Regions from separate parts of the Homo sapiens genome. Here all the other regions are linked to region 3. The links come from fine-mapping of genetic effects on gene expression. A gene starts in region 3. Each other region holds a variant in brackets. All regions are shown on one strand. Distances are from middle to middle. Region 1 overlaps CNKSR3 (CNKSR family member 3). Region 2 overlaps IPCEF1 (interaction protein for cytohesin exchange factors 1). Region 3 holds the start of IPCEF1 (interaction protein for cytohesin exchange factors 1). Region 4 overlaps IPCEF1 (interaction protein for cytohesin exchange factors 1). Region 5 overlaps CNKSR3 (CNKSR family member 3).

Region 1 (5,106 bases), 38 kb after region 3:
CACAATCTCAGCTCACTGCAACCTCCACCTCCGGGGTTCAAGCGATTCTCCCACCTCAGCCTCCCAAGTAGCTGGGATTACAGGTGCCCGCCACCACGCCTGGCTAATTTTTGTATTTTTAGTAGAGATGGGGTTTCACCATGTTGGCCAGTCTGGTCTCGAACCCCTGACCTCAAGTGATCCACCTGCCTTGGCCTCCCAAAGTGCTGGGATTGTAGGTGTGAGCCACTGCACCCACCTACTTAGTGTTTCTAATCCCCAGGATATATATCTAGGAATGAAACTGCTGAGTCATAGGGTATGTGAATACTCACTGCTAATTTAACCTCATACACATAATATACCAGATCCCACTGATCGTTCTAGGATATCCTCCAAGTATTTTCTAATCATTTCAGTTTTGCCAGTCAGGTAGAGAGCAGCATCTCCCTGTGATTTTGACTTCACTTTCCCTGCTCGCTAGTGAAAATCGCTTCACATGCATATGGACCATCTGATTCTCTTTTGCAAAATGCCTTTTCGCTCGTTTTTGTGTTGATTTGTCATTCTCTTGCCAATTTGTAATAATTATATGTATATATTCTTACTGCTAACCCTTAGGACTTTTTAATCTTCTCCCAATTTGTAACTTTTTAAAAATTTTCTTTAAGGTGTCCTATGATGAGGAAAAGTTCTAAGCTTTAGCGTAGCTGAATTTATTAGTCTTTTCTTTTGTACTCAGCCCTTTTACTGTCTTCTATAAGAAATCTTTCCCTATCCAAGGTTACAAAAACAAATTTCAAAATGATTCATAGATCAAATAATAAATCATAATAGAAATTAAAAATTAGTTAGAATTAAAGAGTAATGAAAATGCCATATACCAAGCCTTGCAAAACATGGCAAAATAAATGTTTTGGGGAAAATGTAGTCTTGAGTATTAATATTAGAAAAGAGTTGTAAATTAATAAGCTAAATATCCAACTTAAGAAACATGTCAGAGACCACTCATCCTGACCAATATCACTCTCCCAACCTTCCTTGAAGTTGCAGTGGCTGTGATTGTCATTTCTTTTCTTTTGTGAGATGAGGGTTTTGCTTTGTCATCCAGACTGGAGTGCAGTGGTGTAAACCTGGTTTACTGTAACCTCAAACTCCTGGGCTCCAGCGATTATCCCACCTCAGCCTCCCAAATAGCTGGGACCACAGGTGTACACCACCAAGCCTGGTTGTTATATTTTTTTGAAAGATAGGGTCTCACTATGGTGCCCAGCTGGTCTTGAACTTCTGGTCTCAAGCAATCCTCCCAGCTCAATCTCCCAATTGTTGGGTTTCTGACTGTTAGCCACCACACATGGCCTTATTATTGTCACTTCTAGGCCAGGTTGGTTGAGTATTCACTTTCCTGGGACCCATCTCCCAATTTACCAGGTGGATAATGCCTGGGTCACCTTGAAGTCCAAAATTGGAGACACCATAACCACGCTGGAGACACCAGGAGCAACCCAAGTCCCTGAGTCACTAGCTAGAGGACAGCCACAGAGCATTACCCAACCTGGAACATCCAAAGTGGACGTTGATGAGGAAAATGTAAACTCTTAGTGTGTAAAGTCACTGAGATTTGGGGGTTGTTTGTTATAGCATGAGCCTAATACAAGAAGTAAAAAAAAAAAAAAAAAAAAAGAAGAATTCCAAAGGAAACAGAAGAAAATAGAAAATAAAAAGCAGAAATCAGTGAAATTGAAAACAAAGAAACAACAGAAAGGCCCAACAAAGGGACCACTGTTCTTTCCTGAACCTTAGGAAAGCCATCAGATAACTGTCCGATTCTGTTCTTAGTCCTCTTGCCAAGTCTATTTTCCTCTCCCCACGCTGTTCACAAGAAGAGCATATAGAGAACCTGCATATATAAAGCTGTGTGGGTTGGATTCTTTGTTGCTTATACCTCCAATGGCCAAATACATTTTCTTTCGTCACAGGAACTAAAGGAAAGAGATGGTCTGAGCACAGAGAATGAATCTAGGA[G/A]AGAGGTGACTGGTTTGGGCTGCATCAGGAAAATGCGAAGGCTAAAGACCAGAGCAAGAGACCAAAATGCAGGGAGTACAGGTGGAAAAGGTCAAGTGGAACGGAGGTGCCCAGGGCAGGAGAGCAGGGCTTCCTGGCAAGCTTAGGACGCGTGCTCCCCCTGCAAGGAGAGAAGGAAAAAGTAAGAGTTTTCTTATTTGCATGCATCAAGTATTTTCCATTGCCAAGAAGAGAATTCAATCCCATTTCCCATGTAATGAGTGAAGGGTAGTCTATGTTTCCAGTTAATTCTACAAGAGTGCTTTTGAAAAAAGTACTCCAAAGAATTGGGAAAATGATCATACAGAGCCCTGGTAACAGTCATCATCATCATCCATTGCTGTTTACAAAGGAGACTCTGTATTTAACCACCCAGGATCTCTTTATTTTAATTTGTTTTCTTTGTTGAACTGCATCATAATTGAGTATCTCCTGCTACTTGTTATCTTTTTGCAGTGCAGGATGTGTGGGGGAGCAGAATTTCCACTTGTTTTCTTTCATCAACAAAGTAGAACATCACAGACTCAGATGAGCCCTATGTAGCAATATGCAAAGGACATTACTTGAAAACTCAACTTTCTTGTTCTCAGACTTTTATTAATGCAGTTTGTTGTCTCCAAAAGAGCAGCAACAATATTCTCAGTGGTTCTACCACTCAACCCCTTGGGATGAAGGTTCTTAGTAATATTTCACTATTTAGTCTACAGCCTATATATGCATGTACGTTTTGTTTGTTTGAGATGGAGTCTCACTCTGTCACCAGGCTGGAGTGCAGTGGTGCAATCTGGGCTTACTGCAGCCTCTACCTCTCAGGCTCAAGAGATCCTCCCATCTCAGCCTCCTGAGTAGCTGGGACTACAGGTGCACACCACCACACTCGGTTAATTTTGTTTGTTTGGAGGCAGGGTTTCACCATGTTGTCCAGGCTGGTCTCAAACTCCTGGGCTCAAGCAATCCACCGGCCTCAGCCTCCCAAAATGCTGAGATTACAGGCATGAGCCAACTGTGCCCAGCCAGCCTTAGTATTTATAGACCTGGTTTCCTCAGGTCCAAATCCCTCTCCTTCAATCAAATGTTATACAACTGCAACTGTCCTCCACGTCGCCTCCATTTATAGAGCATTCTATGACCTTACCTCCCCACCATTAACTTTTCCCTGGCTAATTTGAAACTGCCTGTACGAGCTTTAAATGAGTTCTTTGTGGACTTCGGAAAGTGCTTACATTCTCAGCAGTTCCTGTAATCCTGTAACCAAAGAAGCGTTGTTGATGGCCAAGGCTTATTCTTCCTACAAATATGATTGAGTTCTGACACCTGGTATAATGTTTTCTTTAAAATGAGAGCCAATGTAATAAAATTCTTTATGGAATAGTCTGCAAAATGCTTTAATATATTAATAAAATTAAAACAATTTTCACAGAAAATTTTAATAATTTTTTCTAACTTCTTTTCTGATTGCACAGTTAATTTTACCATCTAGTTACTTCAATAATATTTTCTCTGCCTACAGAGCAAATATAAGGGTAAATTATACAGACCCTGCTTTAGAAAGGCTCACAATTCAAGCTGGTCTAACACGATGAGTCAATGCTATGGAAAAACAGAAGAGACCAGTTAATTCTATTCAGAGTAAGATCAAGGAGGACCTCATATGGATGACCTTGGGACTTACTGGGGTAACTAGACCGAGAAGGATGAGTCCATTATCAGGATTTAAGAATCCAGAACTAAGTGCTAAGTAAGGGGTTTAAGGAAAGCATCAGCAAAAATTCACTAATTGTTTTCTTTTTTTTTTTTTTTTGAGACGGAGTCTCGCTCTGTCTCCCAGGCTGGAGTGCAGTGGCGCAATCTCGGCTCACTGCAAGTTGCGCCTCCCGGGTTCACGCCATTCTCCTGCCTCAACCTCCCGAGTAGCTGGGACTACAGGCGCCCGCCACCACGCCCGGCTAATTTTTTTTTTTTTATATTTTTAGTAGAGACGGGGTTTCACCGTGTTAGCCAGGATGGTCTCGATCTCCTGACCTTGTGATCCACCTGCCTCAGCCTCCCAAAGTGCTGGGATTACAGGCGTGACCCACCGCGCCCGGCCTCACTAATTGTTAGTTTAAATTACCACCTACATGAAGTCTTATACCCTGGCTTTGTATTTTATGTTGGCTAAAGAGAATGATTCAATAAGACTATAGGATAAAGGCACCATTAAAGGTGCTTCAGTGGCATTCTTTCATTGAGGAGAAATCTGCAGAAGGGTAGCACTTTCTAGTAAAACATAGTACTCTAAACACGGTTAGCTTACATGTTCTTCCATTTATTTAAGTGCCTTAAAAACAAAAGGAGAAGCAAAACCCTGAAAGATCTTGGTTTAATTCTTTTCTTCTCTAAAAGTAGGTTTCTGTTTTTTGGAGGGGATTTAATTGCTCATCTGATCTGAATGCCCATGACCAGCTCTTGTTTATCATTGGCATGGCCATGAACACAAACAATATAAAATGCCAATTTAACCAATCCACCATGCTTGTTTTTTCTTTTTTCCTAGGAATTAACAGTGGCAGGCCCTGGAAATAGATGGGTAAGAGCAAATCTGTGGTCATCAACTAGGTGCACAGTCCAGTGGGTGTGTGAGATGCATGCACAGGGCAGACAGTAGAGCCTGCAACTGTGATGGAATTAACAGGGTAGGCCCTGCAAACAGATGAGTAAAAGCAAATCTGCGGCCATCACTAGGTGCACAGTGCAGTGGGGGTGTGTGAGATGCACAGGGCAGACAGTACAGCCTGCAACTGTGATGGAATTAACAGGGTAGGCCCTGGAAGATGAGTAAAAGCAAATCTGCGGCCATCACTAGGTGCACAGTGCAGTGGGGGTGTGTGAGATGCACAGGGCAGACAGTACAGCCTGCAACTGTGGCGCAGGCGCAGAACAGGATTGAATTTCGCTAAAAAGACAAAGGAAGAAAAAGTATGGTCTCTGTCCTCAGGGCATTGCAACCCATTAGGCTGAATCATATGAACTGCAGATTATGCAGGTAAAATATGGCCACATATCCACACCTTCACAGGGCTC
Region 2 (5,106 bases), 46 kb before region 3:
TGACTAATAAAACTAGCCATTACTTTGTGTGGCTTTTAGGGGAGTTTAACCTGAAACTGGGGATAAAACTAATTAATTTGTGTTGAAGGACTGTAAAAGAATCACGAATACACAACCACTATTACAGCACAAAAGGAGTTAACATGCATTTGTAATTTCTAGATTCTTCATAAAATGATAATACTTTAGAATGTTCTCTTTGTTGTCAATTTTACAGGATAATACTATTTTTCAATTTAAATTAGATGCGATAAGGTGTGACATCTGCAACTCAGGAACACAAGGACCGTCTGCTAAAAATGGTTTGCAGTTCTCATTTTAAAAGTGTAAACATCTACATTTGGTTTTTTTGTTTTTTTAAAAAGGAACTTCTTGCAAATATGTTAAGTCATCTTAGATGAGGACAGTTTTGTAAAGAGACATGGAGAAGGTCAATATTTGCTAAAATAAGTTGTCTCTTTTAAATAAGGTGATTTCTAAAAAAGAAGGGAAACTCACTTTTACTAAGTATCATATACTCACTCTCTCCAGCTGTCACAGATAACTTTCCCTGAGCTGTCTGAGTCAAACTACCCATTACATGGTCTCAGAACGCCAATAACCGCTCATTCACAGCCTTTATCAATATCACAAATTTGGATATATTTGTATGATTAAGATGAGTATCTGTCCCCCCACTCTATGGTGGCAGGGCTCACCATCTAATGCCAGCACACTACCTGAAGCACAACAGGAGCTCACAACATGTGTTTAATGACACCCAACCGATGGAAGAAACCAGCAGTTATTCTACCTTCACATCCCCAATACATCCTGCTGTCTCTTATTCAGCCATCTCACCGTTCTTCACAGAGCTGTTAGATACCATCCTTATATACCTGTTACCCTTCTCTTCCTATTGAAGACCAATCCCTTCATTATGCTGGGGAGGTGCCGCCCTCCTTGTTCTTGGAGAAGGCATATTTACTGTCTCTTCTCTGTCCTGTATTTTTTTTCATCTGCCCTGTATCTTTAGACAATTCCTCTCTACTTTCCTCTTTGATCCACAATCTTTGTGAAATTCTACCCACCTTAAAATAAAATTCTTTCCGCTAAAGCTATTTAGTCACTCTGCTTTTCTTTTCTTGTTTTTTTTTTTTTTAGATGGAGTCTTGCTCTGTCACCCAGGCTGGGGTGCAATGGTGAGATCTTGGCTCACTGCAACCTCCGCCTCCCCGGTTCAAGCAAATCTCCTGGGTCAGCCTCCCAAGTAGCTGGGATTACAGGCGCATGCCACCACGCCTGGCTAATTTTTGTATTTTTAGTAGAGACAGGGTTTCACCATGTTGGCCAGGCTGGTCTTGAACTCCTGACCTCAAGTGATCCACCCACCTCGGCCTCCCAAACTGCTAGGATCACAGGCGTGAGCCACCACACCCGGCCGTCGCTGTGCATTTTTAAACTTTCCCTTTAGTCAACCTTTGTAAAAGAAGTCTGTTCCTACTGCTCCAATTCTTACCACACAGTCAGCTCTCCAAGACCTAATAATACAAGTGGAGCTCAACCTCAGCTGAATCAAGATGCCCACATCAAAACTGCCAGGCATTTCTCAAAAGAGGACATATGATTGGCAAATAGATGCATGAAAAAATGCTGAACATCACTAACCATCAGGGAAATGCAAATTAAAACCACAATGATATCACCTCATACCTGTTAGAATGGCTATTTTCTTTCTTTCTATTTTTTTGAAAACTAGAGGAAGGGGAGGAGGTCTAGGATGTTGGCAAGGATGCAGACCCTTGCACACTGTTGGTGGGAATGTAAATTAGTACAGCCATTTTGGAAAATAGTATGGAGGTTCCACAAAAACTAAAAATAAAATTACCATATGATCTAGCAATCCGTATTCTGGGTGTATATCCAAAGAAATTGAAATTAGTATGTCAAAGAGATATCTGTACTCCCATGTTTATTTCAGCATTATTCACAATAGTTAAGATACAGAATCAAAATGTGGTATGTATATACACATGGAATACTATACAGACCTAAAAAAGAAGGAGAGTCTGTAATTTGCAACATGGATGGAATTGAAGGACATTATGCTACATGAAAGAAGCCAGGCATATAAATACAAATACTATATGATCTCACTTATATGTGGAATCTAAAAACTTAATCTCATAGAAAAAGAGAGTAGAAAGGGGATTACTAGGGGCTGGGGATGGTTGGGGAAGGGTTGGGGAAAGGGAAGATGGTGATCAAAGGGCACAGAGTTTTAGTTAGACTGGAGGAGTAAGTGTTGGTGTTGTATTGCACTGCATGGTGAACACAGTTAATAATAATGTATTGTATATTGCAGAATTGTTAAAAGAATTTATTTTTAAAGTCCTCACTCCAAACAAATGATGTTGGAAGGGAATAAATATGCTAATTATCTTGATTGAATCTTTCTACAATGTATACATAAATCAAAACAACACATTGTAACCCATAAATATGCACAATTATTATTTGTCAAT[T/C]AAAAATAAATTAATAAAAAATAAGAAAGAAAAACTGCCAGGCATTTTGTTCTTGCTGAGTTCAAGGAGTGCTTTTCAATCTCTCTCTTACTAACCTCCCTGCAGCACAGGATCCCATCCTAATACTCTTTTTCTCTTGGCTTTCAGTACTCCACTTTCTGCCAGTCTTCTTTCATCTCTTCTCAAGCTCATTGCAACCCCTTGCCTCTTTTAATCCCTTAAATATCAGTGTTCCTTAGGATCTTATTCATGTTCTTTTTACTTTCTCTTACTACCTTTTGTTGAATTATCACCAATGCTAATGGCAACCAAATTCATATTTCAAGCTAGACCTCTTGAGCTCCAGAGCTATACTTCCAGTTGACCACTGGCCATGCCCCTCTCCATGAACCACAATTTCCTAAATATGTTTTTTAAAAAAGTGCTCATTATGTTTCCTCAAACACTTATTTTTAAATAACCCAATTTTTTAAATGGGCAAAGAATCAGAATAGATAGTTCCCAAAAGAAGACATACAAATGGCCAACAAGTGTATGAAAAAAATTTTCAATATCACTAATCATTACAAAAATACAAATTAAAACTGTAGTGAGAGATCGCCTCACCCCTGTTAGAATGGCTATTTTCAAAAAAAGATGAAAGATAACAAGTGTTGGTGAAGATGCGTAGAAAAGGGAACTCTTGTGTGTAGTCAGTCAATGGGAAGGAAAATTAGTACAGCCAATATGGAAAACAGTATGGAAGTTTCTCAAAAAATTAAAAATACAACTACGATATGGGCCAGCAATCTCTTTATCTTTTGGATAAATCCTGGATATTTACCCAAAAGAAATGAAATCAGTATATTAAAGAGATGTCTATACCCCCACATTCATAGCAGCACTATTCACAATAGCCAAGATATGCAATCAATCTTTGTCCATCGACAGATGAACAGATAAAGAAAATGTGATCTATATGCACAATAGAATACACTTAAAAACACTTTTAAAAAGAAGGCAATCCTGTTATTTGCAATAACACAGATGAACCTGGAGGACATTTTGTTACATGAAATAAGCCAGTCACAAAAAGATAAGTACTGTATGATCTCATTTATATGTGGAACCTAAGAAAGTCAAACCTAGAGAAACAGGGAGTATAATGGTGGTTGTCAGGGGCTGGTGTAGAGGGAAGGATTGGAGAGAAGTTGGTCAAAGAATCAAAACTTTTTTTTTTGAGACAAAGTCTTGCTCTGTCGCCAGGGCTGGAGTGCAGTGTCACGATCTCGGCTCACTGTAACCTCCACCTCCTGGGTTCAAGTGATTCTTCTACCTCAGCCTCCTGAGTAACTGGGACTACAGGCACGCACCACCACACCCGGCTAATTTTTTGTGTTTTTAGTAGAGACGGGGTTTCACCATGTTGGCCAGGCTGGTCTCGAACTCCTGACCTCATGATCCGCCCGCCTCAGCCTCCCAAAGTGCTGGGATTACAGGTGTGAGCCACCGCACCTGGCCAGAATCAAAACTTTTATTTGGACAGGAGGAATAAGTTCAAGAGAGCTCTTGTACAACATGGTGACCACAGTTAATAACAGTGAATTGTATACTTGAAAATTTCCAAGAGAGATTTTGAGTATTCTCATGATCAAAAAAACTATGTGAGGTAACACATATGTTAATGAGCTTGATTTCGCTATGCAACAATGTACACATATTTCAAAACACCATATTGTAAACCATAAATATGTACAATTTTATTTGTCAATTTAAGATGAATAAATAAAAAATTTTTTAGAACTTTTTCTTGGGCAGGGCACAGTGGCTCACACCTAACACTTTCGGAGGGTAAGGTGGGAAGATCACTTGAGCCCAGGAAGGGAAGGTTGCAGTGAGCCGAAATCAACCCCACTGCACTGCAGGCTGTGAGGCCCTGTCTCAAAAAAAAAAAAAAAAAAACATGGCCGGGCACAGTGGCTCACGCCTGTAATCCCAGCATTTTGGGAGACTGTGGAGGGCAGATCACCCGAGGTCAGGAGTTTGAGACAAGCCTGGCCAACATGGTAAAACCCCATCTCTTCTAAAAATACAAAAATTAGCCAAGCGTAGTAGTGGTGGGTGCCTGTAATCTTAGCTACTCAGGAGGCTGAGGCAGAAGAATCACTTGAACCTAGGAGGTGGAGGTTGCAGTGAGCTGAGATCGCGCCACTCCACTCCATCTTGAGCAAGAGAGCAAGATTCTGTCTCAAAAAAAAAAAGAAAAAGAAAAAAAATTAATGTCACACAGATTTCTTAGAGAGTTTAAACAATAGATAGGTTGTATTTCAATTTAACAGTAAAACAAAATGTTTTAAGAGACTACAAAAGTCTATCCTACTGGATATTGGAAACCTTTTTCTTTACTACTTTTCTATACTAATGACTTTATTAAAGAAAGATGTTTTGGTTAAGCCTAATCTCTTCAACTCAATCACTGTTCTAGTTATTAAGGCTTTACTGTACGGTTATATAGGCAAGTAAATTCCAAAATGGTGTAGAATTGTATGTATGCTTTAATATAAAAGAGATGTAAAACACCAAGAAGCCAGAAATTCATCTTCTGGTTCTTTTTTTTGTTTTG
Region 3 (5,106 bases):
AGTGCCTGAGTAACAGAGATAAAGCAATGGCTTTCCTACCACATTCATTTTATGAATTATGCCAGTTATTCATTCATTCAACAAATATTTACTGAGAGCAGGCACTGTTCTGAGCACTTGGGAGCACAAGTAACTCCTCCATTTGCAGGATTCTCTTTAAGGCTAAAAAGCTTATTTTTTAGGATTTTTCTTCACACACACACACACACACACACACACACACACACACACACACACACACCATTTGCCACATTAGACCTACTTGCAAATTGTTAACCTGTACTGCAATTATCAGCTCACACTGCAGAGCCTCCAAGCTGGATGGAAAGCAGAAGTGAGCTGTTCAAAAGGATGCACGAGTCAAAAGGAAAGTCTCAGGCAATAGTGATGAAGTAATTTCTTATCTCTTATTGCCACAGCAAACTACCGCAGGAAAGAACTTCCTATTTCCATACTCTGATGATGTATATTTGCTTAACACAGCTTGCCTGAAATAGTTCATACATGGACCCACTCCAGAAAAGACACTTGATTTATAAAAAGAGGAATGGAAGGAAATTATAAGGTAAATTAAAGAATGAGTTCATCAACACATACACAAACTTACACCCTTTTCTTCCTTGCTTGCATGATGTGAGCAGAAAGAAATGTGTGTTCTTTCCATTTCTGTTTCTTTTCTTTCTTTCTTTCTTTTTTTTTTTTGAGATGAACTCTTGCTCTGTCACCCAGGCTGAAGTGCAGTGGCGCAATCTCAGCTCACTGCAACCTCCGCTTCCCGGGTTCAAGCAATTCTCCTGCCTCAGCTTCCCAGGTAGCTGGGATTACAGGTGCATGCTCCCACGCCCAGTTAATTTTTGTATTTTTAGTAGAGACGGGGTTTCATCATGTTGGCCAGGCTGGTCTCGAACTCCTGACCTCAGATGATCCACCCGCCTTGGGCTCCCAAAGTGCTGGGATTACAAGCGTGAGCCACCGCACCCGGCATTCTATTTTCTATTTTCTTTTCTTTCTTTTTTTTTTTCTTCCTGTAGAGATGAGGTCTCATTATTTTGCCCCCAGGCTGGTCTCAAACTCCTGACCTCAAGTGATCCTCTCGCCGTGGTCACCCAAAGTACTGGGATTACAGGTGTGAGCCATTGTGCCCAGCCCTCGGTTTCAATTTTCTACATAAAATAAATAACTCGATAGAAATTAGACTTTATCAAGGACAGCACTAGGAACACATAGGCCACTCAAGACTAATAGAGCCCACTGCTGTAGTCAAAGATGCTTCAGTGGGTTATAATTCTGACTTCTATAATTAAATACTTTCACATATACCCCAGCAAAGAAAAATCAAGTGCCCCAGACACCCTTACTAAAAGACTCTGAACCAACAACACCTAGCTTTCATTTTTATACCAGAGATATTTTGGCAAGCCTGAGACCTTTATCAAAGTGTAAAATGTCCCCCAGCTGCCTCCATGCAAAGGAAGCTCCCTTGCAAAGAACACACTTTCTCGAAAGAGGGCGGCCCCAGAGTGCTTCCCCAAATGAACTCCTCAGGACCCAAATACATGCTGAATTGTGCTTTTCTAAATCAAACCTGTGGTCTGCAGTCTAAACACCTATCAAGACAACACCCATTTAAGAAACATAAAAGCAGAGTGAGTACACAACTCTCTCCTCTTTCAAAGCTTTCACAGAATTAAAGAATCTTTAGCACCTGGCTTCCCAGATTACAGAGAGCTGAGTGAATATTACATCCCCAAAGTCATATTTCCTACCTCACTACTCTAAGGAGAGTGCTAGGGTATCCATTGCTTTGCCATCTTGATCTGTCAAGCAGTTACCTCTCATACATCAGCCAAGAAGTGACGTTACTTACATGCAATACAAAGAGAGTAAATCCAAGAGCAGTCTTATTCCTGGATTCAGAAGCCTCATAGTACTCTGAGGCCAAGCTTGAGGATTCTACTTAAAGCAGCCTCAGCTCTGGAAACTCAGTCAACCCAGAACTAACATTCAAAGCTGATCAGAGAGTAAAGCTCTTTCGAAAGAAGAGGAAGTATCATCTCCACTTCCTCAATCCTAACGTTCTTCCTTCTCATTGTTATGAAACCCTTCCTTGATGCCCATATCCAGGACACAGTACATGTAAGGCAAGCACACCCCATCTGCCTGAGTTCATTGATCACTAAGCACTGCCCAGTGTATTCATTTGCCGAGCACATTGGTGGAACAGTTCATGGTTCTGCTTTCCTGTTTTGGAGGCAAGGATGTTCATTTACAGGCATGGAGGGTGAGATGATCTGCAGAGTCATTCTCAGCATTTTTGGGTGAAATGCCACTTCAACCTCTTTAGGTTCAATCTTCTTTCAGATTTCCCTCTTTCCTCCTTTCCTAATCGTTCATAATGCTCTAATAAAGAGAGGGTACAGACACATTTGTAAAACGTATTTTAGGATAAAAATAAGTCTTAGCCTGCCATCTTTTGCAGTAGACATAGAAGAGTCTCTAACCACAAAACTTTTCTTTCCCACATTGGAAAAGGAAAATGGCAGGCTGAAAGTCAGAGATATTCCATCTCATTACAAATTCCTGCCCTCCCAATCTCCCTTTCAACACCAGCTTCTTGTTTCTCTATACCTTCTAGGGAAATGAATACAGCTGGGCGTGGTGGCAGATGCCTGTAATCCCAACCACTCAGGAGGCTGAGGCAGGAGAATTGCTTGAACCTGGGAGGCAGAGGTTGCAGTGAGCCGAGATCGCACCACTGAACTCCAGACTAGGAGACAGAGCAAGACTCCAACTCAAAATAAATAAATAAATAAATATGTATGTGTATATATATATATAATATATATATATAATATATATATTATATATATATTATATATATATTATATATAATATATATATTATATATATATTATATATATAATATATATATTATATATATTATATATATATAATATATAAAATATATATATTATATATATAAAATATATATAATATATATAATATATATATAAAATATATATAATATATATAATATATATATAAAATATATATATAAAATATATATATATATAAAATATATATATATAATATATATATAAAATATATATATATAATATATATATAAAATATATATATATAATATATATATAAAATATATATATATATATATATATATATATATAGAATATATAGAATATATAGAAACCTAATCCCCAATGTGATTGTATTTAGAGGTGGACCTTTGGGGAGTGATTAGGTCATGAGGACAGTGCCCTCATGAATGGTATTAATTTTCTTATTAAAGAGAACCTGGAGATCTGCCCACCCCTCCACCATATGAGGACATGGCCAGAAGACAGTCACCTAGGAACGAGGAAGCAGGTCCTCACCAGACAATGAATCTGCTGGCGCCTTGATCTTGGATGTCCAGCCTCCAGAACTGTGAGAAATAAATGTCTTTTGTTTGTAAGCCACCCAGGCTACGGTGTTTTGATATAACAGCCTGAATGACTAAGACAAAGATAAAATGTAAACTAAATCTGTGGAGGAGTGAAAAAATGAAAGAAGATGCTGTACATTTTGAGCAGGAACAAAATGAAGGTTCTCTCAGCGGCTTCTTGTTTGTGTACACTTCTATTTCTGGAAGTGCTGCCTCATCTTCTCCCTATATTGAGTTGTCTTCTAGTTCCCTGCTTTACGTAGAAAAAAAAATGGTACTAGGTGATATTAAAGGAATTTAGTGGTATCAACAGCATGGCCTGGCTTCTCACCAGACATTTAGATGCCATCATCAAAGATATCCTCAAAAGACATGTTATTTACCTTTATGGGGCCAGAATAGAGCCACTTAAATTCTTTGAGCAAAGATGATTTGTAGAATTAGAATAATCCTCAAAACGGCCGGACTGTCAGTTCAAGATGACGGGCTGACCACAGATTTGCTCCCTCCCTCCCCAAAGACTCCGTTAAAATGAGAAAAGTATAAAAAGTTTATAGGGCCGGGCACGGTGGCTCACACCTGTAATCCCAACACTTTGGGAGCCCCAGGCTGGCAGATCATGAGGTCAGGAGATCGAGACCATCCTGGCTAACATGGTGAAACCTGTCTCTACTAAAAATACAAAAAATTAGCCACGCCTGGTGGCACGAGCCTGTAATCCCAGCTTCTCAGAAGGCTGAGGCAGGAGAATCGTTTGAACCTGGGAGGCGGAGGTTGCAGTGACCTGAGATCGCGCCACTGCACTCCAGCCTGGGTGACAGAGCGAGATTCCGTCTCAAAAGAAAAAAAAAGATATAAACCCACAATAACCCAAAAAAGGAGGAAAAGCATCAGAACTTGGGAGAGCACAACAGATTTCTGGCAGCCTGAAAGCCGATGGAGGAGCAATAACAGATGGAGGCAGGCAGGGGAACCACAATATCTCATTAGTTAGGAGAACACGGCGTTGGAGGAAATTGCCCGTGTGCGGTGCTGAATCCCTGAGAGGACCGGAACTCAAGCCAAAAGAAGCTAAGAGAGCTAAATGAGTGATAGGGTGACAGGACTGAAAACAGGAAGAGTAATTCAAAGTCTGTAAGAACTCAGCCCCTCCCATACCCCTCTTTCAAATCTCTCTGTCCGCCCAGCCTCTGCACAGCAAACACACACAATTCCAACCCCGGGCAGCATACCGAGGATTCGTCTCTACACATAGTGAAATCATGCAGAGAATACAGGCATTGTATGTGGATATGAGCACTCCACAGTCAGAACTCCACATTCTGGCAATAAGAGCCTCATCTAGCATGTGCTGGATGATGGATGATGTGCTTTTTTTTTTTTTTTTTTTTTTGAGACAGAGTCTTGCTCTGTCACCCAGGCTGGAGTGCAGTGGCATTAATTATCTCGGCTCACTGCAACCTCCGCCTCCAGGGTTCAAGTGATTCTCCTGCCTCAGCCTCCTGAGTAGCCAGGATTACAGATATGTGCCACCACACCCAGCTATGTTTTGTATTTTTAGTAGAGACAGTGTTTCACCATGCCGGCCAGACTGGTCTCAAACTCCTGACCTCAGGTGATCTGTGCACCTTGGCCTCCCAAAGTGATGGGATTACAGGCATGAG
Region 4 (5,106 bases), 110 kb before region 3:
ATGCAAAGCCTATGCAAAACCTATGCAAAACCAATGCAAAAAAAAAAAAAAAAAGCCATGTGTCTGTTTTATTTTTAAACATTTGTTTCATGCTTAGAAGGTATAAGATACGGCCAAAGAAACAGCGCAGCAGGAGTAATATGCAAGTATTAGTCTAAGAATAGTATTCACCAAGAATAAGTTGAAAATAATTAAAATTGTAAGGCTGGCGGGCATATCAGTGCAGTAACATAGCTCCTCTCAACAATAACAGCCGTAGTTATGCAATAGATGTTGAAGGGTTAATGCCCACCTCAATACACAGCTACTTCCCGACTCACTGCCAGTTTTTCTAAGCTCTTTTGACATACCACGAGGGATTAATCCAAATGAACAACATGTCGTCATTTCTTAAAATCGATTCAACAATAACCAAAAATTAATCTGCCGTCCACCTCCTCTTATTAGCATTAAGACAGACAGAAATCTGATCCCAAGGAAGGCACCCCGGAGAAAAGCCACACTCAACGTACACAAAATGGAGATAAAGAAACAAAAGAGATCTAATTACCTTGAGTTTTCCTCCTGGGCTTCTGACGCAAGGGAACCTGCTGAAAATGCAGGAAGGAAAGAAAAGAGGAAATTTCTGATTGTGTTGTAACATTTGTAAAGAGAGAAGGAGGGAGGAGGTGGCAGTGTTTATGAGCAGGATGGAATCTAAAAAAAAACTCTCCAGGCAGAGCTTAACGGGGAGCTACTAGCTGAGGCACAAAATGTGCTAATTAGAATCAATATACATTGAGCTGAACCTGAAAAAAAAAAAAAGTCACAGAGCATTTATCACTGATGTTTCCTGTTCCCACCCACAAGCCGCTCTCACTACTACTTTAGTTATGATAGCACAGTGTTCACGGAAGTTTTAAAAATCAAAAAATATTTCCCCTTTTGTGTTTTTGTGAGAGAAGGAAAAATATATCTGCTTCTTTTGCAATTTCTAAATAACAATGATTATTCAGATAAACCTGGAAGATAATTGTTACAATCTCAAAATATTAGAGTCACTTGACTATTCAGCTCATAGTCCTGCTACCACGTAGGGTTAGACCTAAACCACATGAATTAAATATCCCAGAAAATGAAATTCCACAACCTCTTTCAGTGAGAGTTCAGTAGCAATCAACCCTCCTTATCAGGAAATTCTTATTTACAGACAAATTAAAGTTTGTTATTCTGTCTTTAAATATCTCTGAATATTTCTCACGTTTTATGGAAGATAAATTAGTTACCACCTACTATTCTGTACTAGCTCTTCAAATCAGACATAAGACAACATATATGAAATATACATTTTTTCCACAATACATTTTAAACAAACATACAATCAGACTATCAGCAAAAATAAAAAATATTTTTAAGTGCTTTAAAATACGTGTGTGTGTGTGTGTGTGTGTGTGTGTGTGTAGAGAGAGAGAAAAAAAATTTTGCTTAAAGAAGTTCTATTTGTTTTTTCTTTACAAATATCTAAGCTGAACTGATTTAAATTTGAAAGACAACCTTTTCCGTTAACAGGTAGAGAACTCAGGGGAAAAAACGTGTGAAAATGAAAAGCAGTTCCAAAATTTGGTATGTAATCTTAGTACAGCATTTTATAATGTTTTCTAGAGGTTCCTGGCTTATAGTCTACATATCTAACTATTGATCTGATAGCTATTGTATATGGTTCTACTGTATGTTTGAAGAAGGGATATGACATAGTGAAAAGAGGAGAAGGTCTTTAAATCCAGAGGCCTGGAACCAATTCCTGGCTATTATAATTAGTAGCTGTGGTGCCCAAGAAAATAGCACTCTCTGAATCTGCTTCTTCATTTATAAAATGAAGATATTGATAATAATTCTAATCCTATAGGTCTTATAAAGATTTTACAAGATTTATTTGTGAAAATCCTCTGAGAACTAAACAACATCCCTTTATATGAGTATGTGTAATATAATATTATATCGTTGAGATAAACAAATACTTTATATCTAATAAACAGAAAAAAATCATAATTTTTATAAGTATGATTTATGTATCCTTCAGCAATTACAACGAAGCTAAAGTGTTTAAATTATATTTCCTGGGAAATATAGATCCCAAGAAATATTGCACTGACATTTCATCTGACCAATGTTAGAGTAAAATTTATCCCCCCCAAAATTAATCATCCATAAAGATGGCAGTAATTACCTTAAATTTTAAGCAAAGATAGACATGTTATAATCATGGCATGTTACTAAAATCCAGGCAAGTTATCATGAAAAGGACCTAGTCTCAGCCTCACTTCACAAATATCTCCCACACTGACCTGTCTTGTGTTCTAAAGTTCCTATCATTCCCTCAAATCATCTCCTGGGACCTTTTTTTGATATGCCAATTCTCTGAGATCAGTAAAACCCAACTAGTACCTATTGGCAAAATATTTTTGCCCAAATATGTATATTATTTGAGTGGCTAAATTTTAGCTGAGAGCCAGGACTAAAGACAAAGAAGAGAATTCGTGAATGTAGATGCTGGGTAAGATTTGGGAAATCTGGGGTCCAGGAGTCCCTAGCAAGCACTTGAGACAAACCAAGAACCAGGGGAATAGGGAGAAAAGGGCGTTGTTAACAGTCATTCCTAGAGTGCTCAGGCCTCCAATGAACAAGATGAAATTACATTAGTTCAAACAAGAAGAGCAGCCTTCAGATGAACAAATGAGAGGAAAGTCCCTGGAGGGCAGCGATGGGATCAGCCAAGGCAGAGAGGAAGTGATGCTCCTTCCATCGCTCCCAGCTGGGTACCAGTGAGTATCCTCCACCCATTCCTTGTGAGCACCCAGTGGGACTGGAGCCCTCCGGCTCCACCTTAGGGCTACTTCCAGGGAAAGCCCCAAAATGTGAGCTTTGTCTCAATTCTGCCCAAGACCAACCCTTGGTCTACACCACGTTCTTATGCCTAGGATGGGATGAGAACAATACCTCAAGCAGAACAGGCACCCAACTCAAAGAAAGG[CT/C]TTTTTTTTGTTTGTTTTTAAGTGGGGGAGGGAGCTTAGTTATTGAGTCATTGAGTCAACCCTGTTCTGACAATAATTCTCTTAAAGCAAATTATTAACTGTTAAAACTGTTTTCCCTGACCAGAAACAGACTGCATATTATAGAAATAACAAATTCAGGGAGTTTCAGTTTCACCTAACATACATGAATTTGAAACCTAAATTGGTTTATATGAGACAGTGAAAACAATCTTTGAGAACTTTATTGCATCTAAGATAGATTTTACTCCTCACAACAGGAAGTGGAACCCGTGAACTAGTCCGTTTCAAAATGATCTTGCATGTGGTTTTTCGCTAGGTAAGTAAAAAAAAAAAAAAAGCAAGCAACCAGTTGAGCATTTTATGAGATGGTTTTTCAATAGGGGAAATTATAACTTGCTATCATCATAAATATTCAGAGCCTAGTAAGATATTTTCTCATTCTATTTTCTTCCAGTTTGAATGTTATAGGTAAAACTAAAAAATTATTCTAAAAATCTGATTTTGCCCTAACTTACTTCTAAAGTTGAGGGGAAATTTTTCTTTGAAAATATGTATTTCTTTTTCATTGAAGAAGTGTATTTTTCTTTAACTTTTTAAAAGATGGTTCAAAAACTTCATTTGGCCACGAATCACTCAAAAACACATGGAAATATACAAAAGACCCAGTAGAAAATATACAAAGGAAACTCCTTTGATATTGAATGTTGGGGCTAACGCCCAGGTTACGGGTAACTGTTATATTGACTTATAATCCATATAGTAGTTGTTAAACCTTGCAGGCAAAATTTACCCCAAGATGTATTAAAATTCACAGTAAGATGCTCTGTCATTACATCAGACTTCATAGTGATCCTAATCTTTAGCAAAAACTATACAGTGATATGCTGGTAAAATGGGCTCTCTGGTTGCAGGAGCCCTAACTGGTGGCTTTTGTCAATTTCTGTGGTAGAAACCCTCACATCATTGACAGTTTCAAATTACCAATATTTTAACAACCAAGCCACAGAAATTCCTGACTATTTTAGAGCCATACCAGATCGGCACAGCACTGATAGAGCTGTTAGGGATGTTCTTCCAGAAACCCCTGACATCTCCACAAACGTTTTTTATCCTTCCCAGAAAAATAGACTCAACTTTTTAAAGGAGATTCTAAAGCATCCAATTAATAGACATTTACCTGTGAAAACATGAAAAGCTTGCTTAATTTTTTCAGAAGACTAACCACCTTAAATAATACTTAATACATTAATTGAAATAATCTGTCATAGTAGTGGATAATGAAGAAAGACAATAGACATTCTAACAATAATAACAGAAGCAGTAATAAAAACAATGACAGAGGTTGGATGTGATGACTCACGCCTATGTCAGTGATTTGGGAGGCCGGGGTGGGAGGATGTCTTGAGCCCAGGAGCTCAAAACTGGCCTGGACAACATAACAAGATCCCATCTCTTATTTTAAAAAACCACAATGACAGCTAAAACATATGAATAAAGCTTAATAATCATATCATGCTCGCATGTGCCAGGCGCTGCTCTGAGTCTTTTCAAGATTACTAGCATTGAACTCTCATAGCCACCTTTCTGGCTCAGGTGCTATTATTATATCCACTTTACAGAAGTGGAAATTAAAGCAAACGGAGCTTCAGAATTTTGCCCAAAGTCACCAAAGTAAATGGTAAAGTGAAAATAGGTATTTCAAGAATAAAACTCTGCATAGTAAACTGTTAGGATATTTGTTTGCATTGTTGCTGTTTTGTTAAGAAGTAGGGCAGGGAAGCAAGGACTAGAGATTGTGGCGAAGATGGATACCACGGCACTTTCCACCTAGAAGAGGAAAAGAAGAAATGAAAGGAGGACTGGGAAGAAGGGGAGGAAGGAAGGGAGAGGAGATAAGGAGCTGCAGGAAGGGTGCAAGAGAAGACGGAAGAAGGAGGAAGACAATGTAGAAAGTGGGGAAGAGCAAAGTTCCAGGGAAAATCGTGGAGTTTCTAGCTGAAACAATTGCAATAAATGACTTAGCACCATAGAGAACACAGTTAGAAATGTACATATTGTTTCAGCAGTAAAGATA
Region 5 (5,106 bases), 49 kb after region 3:
AGGTTTTTTTTTTTTAGCAGCAATATATTTTTCAAACACAATTCAGGAGAAAACCTCAAATAAAAAGAAAGATGAAGCTGTGGAGGGTGACTGCAAGTAGAGGAGCCAGGAACTTCTCTCGCGGGTCCTGGGACTCCAGGGAACAAAGGCTGAAAAGCACCAATCTGGTTGGCCACTGCCTATAATGAAGACTGACTGCCGAATATTCACTTAAAGGATGGCTGTTCAATTCACAAGTGGCATTTTCCCCACAGAAAAAGAGCTCACCAGCCAGCTAAGGCCTCCAGAGTGATTTAACTCATCATCCAGTGGAACTACAGCTCTTAGAGTTCTCCCCACAATCTGGGGAGTAAGAGGAGATGTTGCCACCCACTTCCTGGGCATAAAGCCAGCTCAAGACAAGAGTAAAACAGGCAGGGCTGGCTCGCCCCTCGTACACAGCTCCCTCCTCATCACCAGTGCCCTACACGAGACCTCCCCAGCCCACACCCCACCCTCCTAGTGTGTTGAACACCCTGTGGTCACACACTGCAAGCCTCTTCTCTCCATCTGCCAAACACCCTTGGGTCTCCATGTCTCCATGAAATACCAGATCTTTTTCTTTTTGTTTTTTTTTTGAGACAGAGTCTCCTTCTGTCACCCAGGCTGGAGTGCAGTGGCCTGATCTTGGCTCACTACAACCTCCGCCTCCAGGGTTCAAGTGATTCTCCTGCCTCAGCCTCCCGAGTAGCTGGGACTACAGGTGCCCACCACCATGCGAAGCTGATTTTTAGTAGAGACAGGGTTTCACCATGTTGGCCAGGCTGGTCTTGAACTCCTGACCCCAGGTAATCCACCCACCTTGGCCCCCCAAAGTTCTGGAATTACAGGCATGAGCCACTGCGCCAGGCCGAAATACCAGATCTTCATGGCAGTTGTCTTAGAGGTAGAGAAGAAAACAGCCAGACTGAGCCGGGTGTGGTGGCTCATGCCTGTAATCCCAGCACTTTGGGAGGCTGAGGCCGGCAGATCAGTTGAGGTTGGGAGTTTGAGACCAGCCTGGCCAACGTAGTGAAACCCCGTCTCCACTAAAAATACAAAAATTAGCCAGGCATGGTGGCGGGCACCTATAATCCCAGCTACATGGGAGGCTGAGGCAGGAGAATCGCTTGAACCTGGAAGGTGGAGGTTGCAGTGAGCTGAGATTGCGCCACTGCACTCCAGCCTGGGTGACAGATTGAGACTCCATCTCAAAAACAAACAAACAAACAAAAAAAACCAGCCTGACTGAATTCAGTCACAGTAATTATACATGAGTGGTTGCTAGTTCCTTTAACCACACCAGAAGCATTTTAAAGGGAAGATGTTTCCTAACTCCAGTGATTTTCATGGGCTGAATTCCAGGCAGTTCAGCAAACTCAACAATTCCGGTGGTATGAGAAAGGGCATTTTGGAGTAGGAGATTTCGGCTCTGCCTAGGAAGATACCTCAGAAAATTCCCCTCGTGCAATTTCACTTTGCATATGCTTCTCCTGTTCTTCCATTTCTAATCCATAAAATCCCAAAATGCTTGGGAGGGTTTATTTTGATTTTTTTTAACAATACTGCCCTGCTGGCAACAGCCACGATAGTCACTTGCTCATCTGAAAATGCCTTGCACTTTCTTTTTCACTAGCTTCGTGTATGACGCAAAACAGAAATATTTCAATTACAGGTGACTAAGAGTAAGAAAAATATACAACTATATTTAAAATACTTAAATTAACAAGATAGTACTTTTCCATTCTAACAAAATATCATACATTCAGTTTAAACAAGAGTTAATATCCAGACACACGTTTTCAAAATACCTGATGCTAGTTGAAAATTAGTGACCATGAGGCTTTCCAAGATATTTCTAATTAGCAAACTGTGTACAATTTTGAAGAAGTGTACACACCGTGCTGGAAGACAGACACTGAACAGGTCAAAATGCAAACTCATGTATCTTTCATCAACCTAAATCTTGTTGCTTCACTTTTCTAAATGATACTTTGGCTGTCAGCGAATCTTATAGCTTCTTTTCCCTTAAAGACAATAATATATAACAACACCACCCCACACAAATAACCATAAACTTCTTTGTGTGAAATAAGCCCTATCAAAATGTGTTCATGTATTTCTGTACCAACTGATCTATACTGAGACTGTCATGAAAAAGGTATCAAACAAGTGTAACAGGCCTACACTTAAACCTCTGCCTCAAAGGAGAAATCAGATACTTGCCACGTTATTGCAAAGTCAAAGCTGCTACACTTAAAATATG[GTAGA/G]TAGTTTAGAAAAATCAAATCAAAAATGTTTTCTCACTGGCTTTTTCAGATAAAGAAGTTGGACCACAAACCAACACATCTGTGTGAAAACAGCCACCAATTTGAGTCCCCCCAGCCCCTCAAAAAGGAACAATGCCACCAGTCCCTCACAATGACCATAACGTCTCTGGCCAGGACTGCGATTTCTAGCGCGTGTCTTCACATTCTATCTCTGGGGAAGCAAGACAAACAGGCTCTACCCATTTCCCTCCTTTTGTCTCCACAAGCCAGCACCTAAGATCCTCTGAATTTGTTCCCATCCAATCCTGCAAACTTCCAAGAAGGGCAGTAGATAACTTTTCAAAAGAAAAAGAAATTGCATAAGGTCCCTACATAATACTGAGGCTGAAACGAGAAGAGGCTGTCCACTGTAAAAGCAAGGCACTTGGGGCAGGAGCCAGGCAGGTGGCCTGAGCAGGGTCCCTCTCAGTGAGTCAACAGTTTGAGGCGCGTAAACCAGCTGACCAGGAGGGACGGTTCTGTGGACGAGGACTTCGTAGCTGAGGAGCCAGATTTCTTTTTGGTCCCTTCCTCCTGGAATGGAATCGTGGCGCTGCTGTGGAGATCTGAGTTGATGTAGCACCTGCTTCCTCGGATGTAGTCCGCACCCCGGACCAGATGCCGCTCGGTCGTGGGTCTGGAGAACCGGTATGGGGGAGAGGAGCTCTCTTCAATGATCGGAGGAATCCGCTCGTTACTGAAATACCGGCAAAGGGCATCCTCCCCTGTTTCCAGACAAAGTCCATTAAGTCACAATCCCAGCCGGGCGTGGTGGCTCACACCTGTAATCTCCGCACTTTGGGAGGTCGAGGTGGGTGGATCACGAGGTCAAGAGATCTAGACCATCCTGGCCAACATGGTGAAACCCCGTCTCTACTGAAAATACAAAAATTAGCTGGCGTGGTGGCGGGCGCCTGTAGTCCCAGCTACTCAGAGAAACGTTTGAACCCGAGAGGCGGAGGTTGCAGTGAGCCAAGATCGCGCCACTGCACTCCAGGCTGTTGACAGAGCGAGACTCTGTCCCCTCCAGGAAAAAAAAAAAAAAATCACAATCCCCTACACAGTGCTCTTTGGAGGGCCCTCGGCCTGCCCAGACTTCTGCCACCACCCTGAATGTGGGCACCATACCTTTACTGCTCTCCTCCCTGGATTGGCCACAAGGTCCCACCTGTGGCTGGGCCCACCAATGGGTGCTCTGGAAGCAGAAATGGGAAGGGTCCCTCATACTTTAGGCTGCTTTAGCGCCTGAGAGGTAGCACACGGGTCTCCTTTAGTGGGTGGGGACCATAGAGTGTAGTGTCCCCGCGATGGCTGAACAGAACTGTTTATGCATTGTTTAATGCAGGGCATTCAAGCTGGGCATTCAGGAACATTCCCGAACAAGGAAAAGAGTGATCCTGCCCTAACTGCCAGCAGACCCCCTGGGATGTGGCTGGAATGTTAAGAAACTGAATAGAAACTTAAAATACAGTACACTTTGGTAACATGTAGCATCCTTGTGAAGCGGAAATTCTACACCCCAAAATGTGCAAAGATCTATGGACTCACGGATGCTTACTGAAACATTTATTTTTATGCTTATTTTTATTTTTTGAGACAGGGTCTCACTGTCATTCAGGCTGGAGTACAGTGGTGCCATCTCAGCTAGTTGCAGCCTCCATCTCCCAGGCTCAAGCGATCCTCCCACCTCAGCCTCCCAAGTAGCTGGGACTACAGGTGCGCACAACCACACCCAGCCGGTCTCGAAATCCTGAGACCAAGCAATCCACCTGCCTCAGCATCCCAAAGTGTTGGGATTAGAGGCATGAGCCACCACACCTAGCCTACTGAAACCTTTTTCAAATTTTAGAATTTGAATTTTAGAATTTTCTAAATTTTCTAAATTCTAAGTTTTCTAAATTTTAGAATTTAGAAAATTTTAGCCTTTTTCAAATTTTAGAATTTGAAAAAAAAAAAAAAAAAAAAAAACCTAAATTTCCAACAGTGGCACGTTGAATAAATAGGCGCTAGAGCCATAAGATGGCATTCTAATACGGCTATATTCTTTTCAAATATGGTGTAGATAATATTCATTTTTACATAGTATTATTGAATATTTACTTCTCCCCTTTTTTTGAGACGGAGTCTCACTCTGTTGCCCAGGCTGGAGTGCAATGGAGAGGTCTGGGCTCACTGAAACCTCCGCCTCCCAGGTTCAAGAGATTCTCCTGCCTCAGCCTCCCGAATAGCTGAGACTACAGGCGCCCACCACCACACCTGGCCAATTTTTGTATTTTTAGTAGAGACGGGGTTTCACCATGTTGGCCAGGCTGGTCTCGAACTGCTGACCTCGTGATCCGCCTGCCTTGGCCTCCCAAAGTGCTGGGATTACAGGTGTGAGCCACCGCACCTGGCCAACTTCTCCCATTTTGCACATTTTTCTAAGTATATAAATGTAAATACAGGAACAACTGGAAATCACACGAAACATTCACAGTGATTATTTCTTAGGTCAGAGAAACAGATTCCAGCTGAGTTTTATTTTCTCATGCCTTCCATGTTTTTCAATGTACTTGCTTTGCTTTTGTAATGAAAGGGGAACAGTCACATTGAAAAAGTGCCCATTGTCAAAAAGCCACATGTTGCATAAGTCTATTTATATGAAATGTCCAGAACAGGCAAATCCACAGAGTAGATGAGTGCCTGTCAGGGGCTGAAGAAGGACGGAATTGGGAGTGACTGCTAAAAGGCACAAGGTTTCTTTTTGGAGTGACAAAAATGTTCTGGAATAGTGGCAACT

What was found. PIP is the estimated chance that this variant, and not a neighbour inherited with it, causes the effect.
Region 1: its variant is fine-mapped to the expression of IPCEF1 in sun-exposed skin (GTEx, PIP above 0.99).
Region 2: its variant is fine-mapped to the expression of IPCEF1 in whole blood (TOPMed, PIP above 0.99).
Region 4: its variant is fine-mapped to the expression of IPCEF1 in whole blood (TOPMed, PIP above 0.99).
Region 5: its variant is fine-mapped to the expression of IPCEF1 in gastroesophageal junction (GTEx, PIP 0.93).

The regions. Positions count from the first base shown.
Region 1 is chr6:154,392,974-154,398,079 of GRCh38, forward strand. It overlaps CNKSR3 (CNKSR family member 3), which reads right to left. Exons shown (of 13, transcript NM_173515.4): 13 at 1-5,106. Among named protein-coding and RNA genes, the nearest start is that of IPCEF1, 39 kb to the left of the region's middle. The variant G/A (reference allele first, on the strand shown) is at 2,005.
Region 2 is chr6:154,308,642-154,313,747 of GRCh38, forward strand. All of the region lies in intron 1 of IPCEF1 (interaction protein for cytohesin exchange factors 1), which reads right to left. Among named protein-coding and RNA genes, the nearest start is that of IPCEF1, 46 kb to the right of the region's middle. The variant T/C (reference allele first, on the strand shown) is at 2,505.
Region 3 is chr6:154,354,805-154,359,910 of GRCh38, forward strand. It overlaps IPCEF1 (interaction protein for cytohesin exchange factors 1), which reads right to left and starts at 1,999. Exons shown (of 12, transcript NM_001130700.2): 1 at 1,868-1,999. It overlaps LOC105378067 (a long non-coding RNA gene), which reads right to left. Exons shown (of 3, transcript XR_007059823.1): 3 at 5,089-5,106.
Region 4 is chr6:154,246,899-154,252,004 of GRCh38, forward strand. IPCEF1 (interaction protein for cytohesin exchange factors 1) reads right to left here. Exons shown (of 12, transcript NM_001130700.2): 4 at 551-590. Among named protein-coding and RNA genes, the nearest start is that of IPCEF1, 110 kb to the right of the region's middle. The variant CT/C (reference allele first, on the strand shown) is at 3,011.
Region 5 is chr6:154,403,601-154,408,706 of GRCh38, forward strand. It overlaps CNKSR3 (CNKSR family member 3), which reads right to left. Exons shown (of 13, transcript NM_173515.4): 13 at 1-3,052. The coding sequence ends at 2,754. Among named protein-coding and RNA genes, the nearest start is that of IPCEF1, 49 kb to the left of the region's middle. The variant GTAGA/G (reference allele first, on the strand shown) is at 2,285.